Linked DNA regions of Homo sapiens. The protein of the gene in region 1 interacts with the protein of each later gene in a pairwise test. Each region holds a gene or a part of one and is shown in the gene's direction. Other genes may lie near its edges.

What was found.
Region 2: the proteins of SLC7A14 (region 1) and PLPP6 interact in binary tests that used the Homo sapiens proteins (3 or more experiments, as listed by UniProt).
Region 3: the proteins of SLC7A14 (region 1) and NINJ2 interact in binary tests that used the Homo sapiens proteins (3 or more experiments, as listed by UniProt).

The regions. Positions count from the first base shown.
Region 1 is NC_000003.12:170,478,012-170,481,663, reverse strand, and holds part of SLC7A14 (solute carrier family 7 member 14), read left to right. Parts: intron 1-497; coding exon 498-1,375; intron 1,376-3,652. UniProt on the Homo sapiens protein: Imports 4-aminobutanoate (GABA) into lysosomes. May act as a GABA sensor that regulates mTORC2-dependent INS signaling and gluconeogenesis. The transport mechanism and substrate selectivity remain to be elucidated.
Region 2 is NC_000009.12:4,660,660-4,664,411, forward strand, and holds the start of PLPP6 (polyisoprenoid diphosphate/phosphate phosphohydrolase PLPP6), read left to right. Parts: upstream 1-1,634; 5' UTR 1,635-1,716; coding exon 1,717-2,604; 3' UTR 2,605-3,752. Other genes in the region: SPATA6L (spermatogenesis associated 6-like protein), read right to left, coding at 1,240-1,377. UniProt on the Homo sapiens protein: Magnesium-independent polyisoprenoid diphosphatase that catalyzes the sequential dephosphorylation of presqualene, farnesyl, geranyl and geranylgeranyl diphosphates.
Region 3 is NC_000012.12:656,859-660,510, reverse strand, and holds part of NINJ2 (ninjurin-2), read left to right. Parts: intron 1-3,652. UniProt on the Homo sapiens protein: Its role in unclear. In contrast to NINJ1 paralog, does not mediate plasma membrane rupture (cytolysis) downstream of necroptotic and pyroptotic programmed cell death.

The DNA.
Region 1 (3,652 bases):
CTCTGGGAGGCTGAGGTGGGTGAATCATGAGGTCAGGAGTTCGAGACCAGCCTGGTCAACATGGTGAAACTCTGTCTCTACTAAAAATACAAAAATTAGCCGGGTGTAGTGGTGCATGCCTGTAATCCCAGCTACTCGGGAGGCTGAGGCAGGAGAATCACTTGAACCCAGGAGGTGGAGGTTGCAGTGAGCTGAGATCACGCCACTGCACTCCAGCCTGGGGGACAGAGTAAGCAGAGTGAGACACCATCTCACCAAAAAAAAAAAAAAAAAAGAAATCAAAGATTTAAAGTGAATTCTTTTTTAATTATATACCAAATCCTGGGGTAGGAATAGCAGCTGGATTTAAAGTAGTGAATGCAGAAGTAAATTGGTGGAGCAGGACCAGGAGGAGTTAATCACACCAGCCTATTGATAGTTCTAGCTCCCTATGTTGGCTGCACTGGAATCGGTCACTGTAGCTCACCATTAACCCTCTGCTTGCCCGGCCCCTCCAGGTTCCTGGCTCACGTCAGCTCCTACACAGAGACACCAGTGGTGGCCTGCATCGTGTCGGGGTTCCTGGCAGCGCTCCTCGCACTGTTGGTCAGCTTGAGAGACCTGATAGAGATGATGTCTATCGGCACGCTCCTGGCCTACACCTTGGTCTCTGTCTGTGTCTTGCTCCTTCGATACCAACCTGAGAGTGACATTGATGGTTTTGTCAAGTTCTTGTCTGAGGAGCACACCAAGAAGAAGGAGGGCATTCTGGCTGACTGTGAGAAGGAAGCTTGTTCTCCTGTGAGTGAGGGGGATGAGTTTTCTGGCCCAGCCACCAACACATGTGGGGCCAAGAACTTACCATCCTTGGGAGACAATGAGATGCTCATAGGGAAATCAGACAAGTCAACCTACAACGTCAACCACCCCAATTACGGCACCGTGGACATGACCACAGGCATAGAAGCTGATGAATCCGAAAATATTTATCTCATCAAGTTAAAGAAGCTGATTGGGCCTCATTATTACACCATGAGAATCCGGCTGGGCCTTCCAGGCAAAATGGACCGGCCCACAGCAGCGACGGGGCACACGGTGACCATCTGCGTGCTCCTGCTCTTCATCCTCATGTTCATCTTCTGCTCCTTCATCATCTTTGGTTCTGACTACATCTCAGAGCAGAGCTGGTGGGCCATCCTTCTGGTTGTTCTGATGGTGCTGCTGATCAGCACCCTGGTGTTTGTGATCCTGCAGCAGCCAGAGAACCCCAAGAAGCTGCCCTACATGGCCCCTTGCCTCCCCTTTGTGCCTGCCTTTGCCATGCTGGTGAACATCTATCTCATGCTAAAGCTCTCCACCATCACATGGATCCGGTTTGCGGTCTGGTGCTTTGTGGGTAAGCAACTTCCTTTGGAGCCTTAAGAGTTCCCTTTTAAGGTCTTAAGCATGCTTATCCCAAAATTACCTCCTAGCTGGACTAGGCAACTCCGTTCCCAGAGAAATCTGGCTGGTTCTATGGACCCTTGTGTTCCGCCTAAGAGTCAATAAAGCCAGTTGTCCCCTTTCTGCCTGTAATGTTCTTAGTCATTGGTTCTGGAAAAATGATGTTGATTAATCCATCGCTTTACTGAATTACTGAAAGTTCTTTCTATATCAGGATAATTAATACCAGAAAAAGTCCACTTAAAGTGAATCCACATTTTTAAGGTGACAAAAATAGCATAGTATAATTGGGGTCAGGGCATTTGGATGGAATTTTATCATAGAAACTAAGAATTGTAAAATGAAAAACTATCTTAGATTTCACAAAATTAAATTAAAATAGCAATTATGCTCTCATTTTTAAATGAACAAGGTGTGAATTAAGTGTGGATTTTTTGGCATAATTTTTCTGACAAAATTGAATCATGGCATCATTTAACATCTCTCACTTCATACTGACTTTTGTAAAATATTCAAAAGTTTTTCATATTTCCCAAGGTCCTTTCTTCATTCATTGACATTCCAATCATTCACTTGGGAAGTACCCATCATGCCACCATCCTTACTGATTTTCTCTCTCCTGCTGGTAATAACTAATATGACTCTGTTAGGTCCTCAATTGTCTACAATTTTGGGTGTGAATTCAAATTGTTCTCTAAACTCACTTTCACGGACTTCAAGAAGTCCTGTACCTTCTCTAAGATTTCTAATTTTACTTTGTGATCCATTTCTATTGTATTTGCAGTACTTGCTTATCATCTAGGACAATCTCTGATGTTCATGAGGTGGCTGGGGATTGATGCTAGTAAGAACTTGAGAAGTGTAATGGAAGACTCATTTTAAAGTTCCTTAGTCACTATTTGTATGTCCTCTGAACAACTTGGTAACCCTGGGGTCTCTGATAACAAATTCTTAGCTAAAGAGGATCTTTAGAAGCTCTGGGGAATAGAAGAGTAAACCCTGCCTAAAGGAGAGGCAAGACAAACACACGAGTCACTTAGCCCAAGAGAGGCCAAAGAGACTCTTTTTGTTGTTGTTGTTGTTGTTGTTATTTGTTTGTTTTGTTTTGTTTGTTGTTGTTGAGATGGAGTCTTGCTGTGTCGCCCAGGCTGGAGTGCAGTGGCTTGATCATGGCCCACTGCAACCTCCGCCAACCAGGTTCAAGCAATTCTCCTGCCTCAGCCTCCTGAGTAGCTGATATTACAGGTGAGTGCCACCATGCCCTGCTAATTTTTGTGTTTTTAGTAGAGATAGGGTTTCACCATGTTGGCCAGGCTGTTCTCGAACTCTCAACCTCATGATCTGCCCACCTCAGCCTCCCAAAGTGCTGGGATTACAGGCATGAGCCACTGTGCCCAGCCCACAGAGACTCTTAGTGATGAGTGGCAGTGCATCCACTCCTAGAGATCAGGAATACACTTGTTCAACATGTGTCCTCCGTGTCTGGAGCAGGGTGCCCGCAGTATGTGCTCAAAAATACTTCTTAAATTATTATAAAGTACTCTTCAAAGGGGAAAAAGGAAAACTTCCAGTCAGAATTGCCAGAAAAAACTTGGAGGGGGTAGAATACAAAGTGGCCCTATAAGTTAAGATATAGATAGAAAGAAGTGGGGGAAAAAGTAGCAACCAATGGAAAGGGCATATGTCTTCCCCAGAGGCCTGACTCCTTGCTTCTGAAGGCTGCTCTATGGCTTCCTGTAAGCATTTTGTCCCAATTTTTCACTATTCTAAGTCCCCCTGGTTAGACTTCAGGAGGATTTCTTGAGAGGACCCCACTGACTCATCAAGATTTTAACCAATTTTTATAACACATTTACAATCTCTTGGCTGGGCATAGTGGCTCACGTCTATAATCCCAGCACTTTGGGAGGCCGAGGAGGGCAGATCACCTGAGTTTAGGAGTTCGAGACTAGCCTGGCCTACATGGCAAAACCCCATCTCTATAAAAAATGCAAAAATTAGCCAGGCGTGGTGGCAAGTGCCTGTAATCCCAGCTACTTGGGAGGATGAGACAGGAAAATTGCTTGAACCCAGGAAATGGAGGTTGCAGTGAGCTGAGATCACACCACTGCACTCTAGCCTGGGAGACAGAGCAAGACTCCATTTCAAAAAATTTTTTTAAAAAAATTAATATTTTAAAACTTTTTAAAAAAATACAATCTCTTATCTCTAAACATTTTTCCACTGGAAC
Region 2 (3,752 bases), on another chromosome or scaffold:
ACCCAGCCATCCCATTACTGGGTATATACCCAAAGGATTATAAATCATGCTACTATAAAGACACATGCACACGTATGTTTATTGCAGCACTATTCACAATAGCAAAGACTTGGAACCAACCCAAATGTCCATCAGTGATAGACTGGATTAAGAAAATGTGGCACATATACACCGTGGAATACTATGCAGCCATAAAAAAGGATGAGTTCGTGTCCTTTGTAGGGACATGGATGAAGCTGGAAACCATCATTCTCAGCAAACTATCACAAGGACAGAAAACCAAACACCGCATGTTCTCACTGATAGGTGGGAATTGAACAATGACAACACTTGGACACAGGGTGGGGAACATCACACACAGGGGCCTGTCGTGGGGTGGGGGGAATGAGTTAATGGGTGCAGCACACCAACATGGCACATGTATACATATATAACAAACCAGCACGTTGTGCATATGTACCCTAGAACTTAAAGTATAATTTTTTTAAAAAAATGTGACATGCTCTACTCTGTAGCCTTCCTTCTCCCCAGATCTCCCTCAATGACATTGTTTGGGGCAAAATCATTAGACTTATTAAGGTTAAAATTGATTCCATCTCCAAATTCCAAAACAAAAATGTTAAGAGATTGTCAGTGATGACATAGTAATAACATCAATATTCTATGAATAGTTTAGTGTGAAGAAGGCTGGTAATGTTTTGACTATTTATATCACCATGTTATTCACCAGAATGGAATCTAGCCTTTATCACTGTAGCTAAATAATCTAGGTATGATCTGAGGAAACAGTAAATCTGAACAGCCTTTTTGTTACAGGATTTTAGTTACAGGATTTAACTAATTTCATTATTTTTTTTTCGCTATTTTTCTTGGTCTAACACAGTTTTTTCTAAGGTCCACAGTTTATTAATAATCCCTTTCGTAAATGTAATGCAATTACCTCTAACACCTCCAAAAACATTCAGAAATGCTCTCTTTGCTCCAGTTAAAAAAATGCCATGGGAGTTCCAAGAATAGGAAACATCAACCAGGGTATTTAGCACTAGATTGACAGAACTTGGCTCAGACCTGCATTACAAAAGCAAGTGTTCCGACTGCGGTTTTGCATTGTGCTGAAGTGCTTTCGGATAATTTTTTTAAAAATGAAATTTACCAAATAATGCTGTAAGAACTCTGTTCTTTATAAGAACTCTCAGGTTATCTTCAGACAACAAAAGCCAATGAGAAAGTCAAGATCACCTTTTCAAATCTCATGCTCTCCTGAATCATAATGGGGAACGCAGAGGGAAAGCTGTTGGTCTCCAGGTACTGATTCATGAGGTAGACCCCGAGGTACACATCTTGTTTGCCAGGCAGGAACACTCCTGGGCAAGAAATCTTAAAAAGAAAGAAAACAACAAACAAGGGAGAGAAAACAGACTTTGCTTTGTTTTGTTACACGGGGCTCTATTTCTCTTAAGCTCCTACAGACACTGACATTTTCCCCATCACCTCACTCCCTCACCTGTACCTCCCAACGCCAACATCCTCCCCTCTGCTCTCCTCACATTGGAAATTCCAACTCCCTCCCACGTCTCCACCAGGTGTCACAATCGCGCTCTCGCCGGCTCCTCTCCCCGCCCCTCCGGGATGGTAGTGCGGAAGCGGAAGAGGCTGCAGGGCCGGGAAGCCTCTGTTTGGTCCGGCCAGGTCCCGGGATCCGGGCCGCCAGCTGCGATGCCAAGTCCCCGGAGGAGCATGGAGGGACGGCCGCTGGGCGTCTCCGCTTCGAGCAGCAGCAGCAGCCCCGGCAGCCCAGCCCATGGCGGCGGTGGCGGCGGCAGCAGGTTTGAGTTCCAGTCCCTGCTCAGCAGCCGCGCCACGGCCGTGGACCCCACCTGCGCCCGGCTCCGTGCATCGGAGAGCCCAGTTCACCGCCGCGGCTCCTTCCCCCTGGCCGCGGCGGGCCCCTCGCAGTCGCCCGCGCCTCCGCTGCCCGAGGAGGACCGCATGGACTTGAACCCGTCCTTCCTGGGCATCGCCCTGCGCTCCCTGCTGGCCATCGACCTGTGGCTGTCCAAGAAGCTGGGGGTGTGCGCGGGAGAGAGCTCGTCGTGGGGCAGCGTGCGACCCCTTATGAAGCTGCTGGAGATCTCGGGACACGGCATCCCCTGGCTGCTGGGCACCCTCTACTGCCTGTGCAGGAGCGACAGCTGGGCCGGGCGCGAGGTGCTGATGAACCTGCTCTTCGCCCTGCTGTTGGACCTGCTGCTGGTGGCCTTGATCAAAGGGCTGGTCCGCAGGCGCCGCCCGGCCCACAACCAGATGGACATGTTTGTCACTCTCTCGGTGGACAAGTACTCCTTCCCCTCGGGCCATGCCACAAGGGCCGCCCTGATGTCGAGGTTCATCCTGAACCACCTGGTGCTGGCCATTCCACTGAGGGTGCTGGTGGTTCTGTGGGCCTTCGTCTTGGGCCTATCCAGGGTCATGCTGGGGCGGCACAATGTCACCGACGTAGCTTTTGGCTTTTTTCTGGGCTACATGCAGTACAGCATCGTGGACTATTGCTGGCTCTCACCCCATAATGCTCCGGTCCTCTTTTTACTGTGGAGTCAACGATGACACCATCTCATTGATTATGGCACCAGGAAGTCTGAAGGTTTCCACATTCGATGATGTCAACCTAAACCAGCAGCCATCCCGCTTGTCCCTCTTAGGCATTTCAGGCTTCCTTTGGGATTTCAGGTGTCCCATGATCTTGATGTGCTGCTAGGCTGGAGCACACACTGGCCATTACTGAACACAGCCATATTAGGGAAAGCAAAAAAACCCAAAAAATCCTCTATTGTATATTTATTCAACAACTGTTTATGTTTCCAGGACAACTGCAAAGAAAACAAGCTGAGGTGGTTATACTGTTGCTGTTAAAAGTTGGTATCAGTAAGATTTGTGTTTTGTGATAATCCCTAAATCAACATACCACTTGTAAACTGAACTTCGAGAAAGAAACATGATGTTCATTCTGTAAATATACATGCAGACAGGTCATGTACTAATCCTAGTCCTTTTCCTGAGGTAGATTTTAAACAGTATTTTTAAAGTCCAAGACATAGGTTTTTCTAGTTTATTCCCTGAAGATCTGTTGCCACAGTTGGGAGATTTCTTCTTAATCCTGATTTTCTTGGTAAGCTTTTTTACTTTATTATCTCTATAATTTATTATCTCTATCCATATTTGTGGATCGGGTAGTGGGAAAAGAGATTATAATACTTGTCTTTCTCTCCTCTCCCTCCATCCCTCAAAAGATCTTTATGCATTTCCCACTACTCCCTTACTGTCTTTTAGCATTCAGAGAAAAAGCCAACTTGCTTAAAGAGGAATCACTTAAAAGGTAGGCATATCTAAGATGCTCATAGAAGAGGAAGAATGGGACATGGCCCCATGCTTATTTTTGTTTACAACGTAACATGGCATGAGAGAGGGCAGAGAAACTAAGTTGCTGGGGAAAGTTAGAGGAACTGAAAGTTTGGGAATAGGCTGACCACATATTATGCCAGTGACCAGTATGACAGGAGATGGGGCCCTGCTGCCAGTCATCTCCACTGAATAAAGAATAATGCTCCTCTTTCAGGGTAATAAAGTGGGGAAAAGGAACGTCTTCTCAATGCAAGAACATAAGCTTTCTCGTATATACCTGTATGCTACAGTTTTTCACATGGAATTCCGTTTTCTGAGGTACAGCACATTTTAGGTAACAGTATTTAACTTGA
Region 3 (3,652 bases), on another chromosome or scaffold:
AAATTAGCTAGGCGTGGTGGTGTACGCCTGTAGTCCCAGCTACTCAGGAGGCTGAGGCAGGAGAGTTGCTTGAACCTGGGAGGCAGAGGTTGTGGTGAGCGGAGATCGTGCCACTGCACTTTTGAGACTCTGTCTCAAAAAAAAAAAAAAGAAAAGAAAAAAGAAAGAAAGCATAACAACTTATCAGACCTGTGATTCCTTTTTTTTTTTTTTTTTTTTTTAACAGACAGGATCTTGCTGTGTCACACAGGCAGGAGTGCAGTGGTGCAATCTTGGCTCACTGCAGCCTTAACCTCCTGGGCCCAAGTTATCCTCCTGCCTCAGCCTCCTAAATAGCTGGGACCACACATGTGCACTACCATGCCCAGCTAATTTTTTTTTTCTTTTTTTAGTGATTGGGGTCTCACTGTATTGCCCAGGCTGGTCTCTAACTGCTGGTCTCAAGTGATCTTCCTGTCTTGGCCTCCCAAAGTGTTGGGATTACAGGCATGAGCCACATGTCCAGGCAATTCCAACATTTTTATTGCTTAGGATGAGCCTCAAGTAAGTGGCAGGAAGTTTTTTGACACCTTTATACAGTCCTTGCACATGACCTGGGCATACCCTCAATGTCTTAGTAACTGTTTCTGTCTGACCTGTTCAGAAGTACGGCAGCCCTGGGTGACATGGATCACAGGTGTGTGTGCCCGCACCTACTACTGCACTGAGACGTTGAAACCCTGAACATGGCACAACTGAAGTTTGGGAAACTCTAATCTAAAATAACATTAACTTGAGCCTCTATAATCAATGTTGCAAATGTATCTCCAGGTCAAGACCTGTGAGACTGGGATGGGTAGCAGCAGCACAGCTGGCTGTGAAGAGTGGCGCACAGCACTCAGGGCAGGTGGCCTCCACCAGCTGGATGCCTGGAGCTGCTCCTTCTGTTCTATGGCCTGTGGCTGTGGCCTCCAAGCCTCTGCCCTTCTCCCTGCCTTCACTGGTAGCCCTGCCAGGGAGCTAAGCCTGCGCATCTCCCAGAGTCTGGATGTGTGAAAGGTTGAGGATAATCCCTTTCTTCCCCTTCGAGCCAGTGTTGCAACCCTACCCCCAAGTACAGAGTTTAAGCCCCTAGCCTGGCTCCTTCCCAAAATGCAGCTCCTCTTGGGCTTCCAGATTCCCCAGGCAGATCCAGTTATTGGCCCCTTTTTTTCCACCTGTGCTGCATGTTGATGGAAATGTGAAGATGATCTGCCAAAAGAGGAACTAAGACTTGTCCAAACCGAATGCAAATTCAGTATAGCTCAGGTTAAGTAGAGCGAGATACAGATAGAATGAGATGGGAGTGGAGGTAAAAACACTTATGAATAGAAGAAGGTCTATAGGCAAAGTACTCTGGGAGTGTTTTTGTTTGTTTGTTTGTTTTATTGTTTTTAAAGACATATATATATATAAGCAGTTATATATTATATATATATTATATATAATATATAATAGCAGTTATATATAGAGAGAATAGCAACTATATATGTAATAGCAGTTTTAGGTTCATGGCAAAATGGAGAAGGAAGGCCAGAGATCTCCCATATAGCCCCTTGCCCCACATGCATAGACTCCCCATTATCAACTTCCTCCACCAAAATGGTACATTGTTTTTTTACAACCGATGAGCCTTACATTGACACATCATTATGACCCAAAGTCTACAGTTTACATGAGGGTTCACTCTTGGTGTTAAACATTCTATGCGTAATAACATGTTTCCACCGCTATAGCATAGTATAGTATAGCATAGCATAGCATTAGCATAGCATAGCATAGCATAGCATAGCATAGCATAGCATAGCATAGCATAGCATAGCATAGCATAGCATAGCATAGCATAATAGAGAAGTTTCACTGCCCTAAAAATCCTCTGCATTCTGCCTCTTCATTGCTCCTTCCCCTCTGAACCCCTAGCAATGACTGACTTTTTGTTTTGCCTTTTCCAGAGTGTCACATAGCTGGAATCATACAATATGTAGCCTTTTCAGATTGCCTTCTCTCACTCAGTAATGGCACTGAAGTTTCCTCCATCTCTTTTCATGGCTTGATAGCTCATTTCTTTTAAGTACTGAATAATATTCCAGTGTCTGGATGTACTACTGTTTATTTTATTCACCTACCGAAGGACATCTTGGTTGCTTCCAAGTTTTGGCATTACGTATCATTCTGTATAAAGCCACTCAGCTGGGCGCAGTGGCTCACACCTGTAATCCCAGCACTTTGGGAGGCCGAGGTGAGTGGATCACTTGAGGTTAGGAGTTCGAGACCAGCCTGGCTATCGCTAACATGGTGAAACCCCACTTCTACTAAAAATACAAAAATTAGCCAGGCATGGTGGCAGGTGCTTGTAATCCCAGCTACTCGGGAGGCTAAGGCAGGAGAATCGCTTGAACCCGGGAGGCGGAGGTTGCAGCCAGCTGAGATCGCACCACTGCACTCCAGCCTGAGTGACAGAGTGAGACTCTGCCTCAAAAAAAAAAAAAAAAAAAAAAAAAAAAGCCTGTGTAGGTTTTTGTGTAAACACAAATTCTGAATTCATTTGGGAAGATACCAAGGATTGCAATTGCTGGATCATATGGTAAGAGTGTGTTGAGTTTTGGAAGAAACTGCCAAACTGTCTTCCAAAATGGCTATACTGTTTTGCATGTCCACCAGCAATGAATAGGTGTTCCACATTCTCATCAGCATTTGGTATTGTCAGTGTTCTGGATGTTGGCCATTCTAGTAGCTGTGCAGTGATATCCCATTTTTGTTTTAATTTGCATTTCCCTAGTGACATAAGATGTGGAGAATCTTCTCATATGCTTATCTGCTACCTTTGCATCTTCTTTAGTGAGGTGGCTGTTCAGGTTTTTTGCCCATATTTAGTGGGGTTACTTATTTATTTATTTATTTTTTGAGAAGGAGTCTCGCTCTGTCTTCCAGGCTGGAGTGCAGTGGCCCGATCTCAGCTCACCGCAACCTCTGCTTCCCGGGTTCAAGCGATCCTCCTGCCTCAGCCTCCTGAGTAGCTGGGACTACAGGCATGCGCCACCATGCCCCGGCTAATTTTTGTATTTTTAATAGAGGCGGGGTTTCACTATGTTGGCCAGGCTGGTCTCAAACTCCTGACCTTGTGATCCACCCGCCTCAGCCTCCCAAAGTGCTGGGATTACAGGTGTGAGCCACTGCGCCCGGCCTTATTTTCTTGTTGTTGAATTTTAAGATTCTTTGTCTGTTTTGGATAACAACTGTTTATTAGATGCATCTTTTGCAGATATTTTCTCCCAGTCTGTGGCTTGTCTTATTCTGTTGACATTGCCTTTCACAGAGTAGAAGTTTTCAATGTTAATAAAATCCAGTTTATTATTTCTTTCATGGATTGTACCCTTTGGTATTGTATACAAAAAGTTGTAAGCATATTCAAGGTCATCTAGATTTTCTCCTATATTATCATTTATGAGTTTTATAGTTTCGCATTTTACATTTAGGTTTATAGTCCACTTTGAATTAATTCTTGTAGAGGGTGGAAGGTCTGTGCTTAGATTCATATTTTTACACGTGGATGCCCGGTTATTCTGGCACCATTCGTTGAAAAGACTATCTCTGCTACATCGTATTGTCTTTGTTCCTTTATCAAAGATCAGTT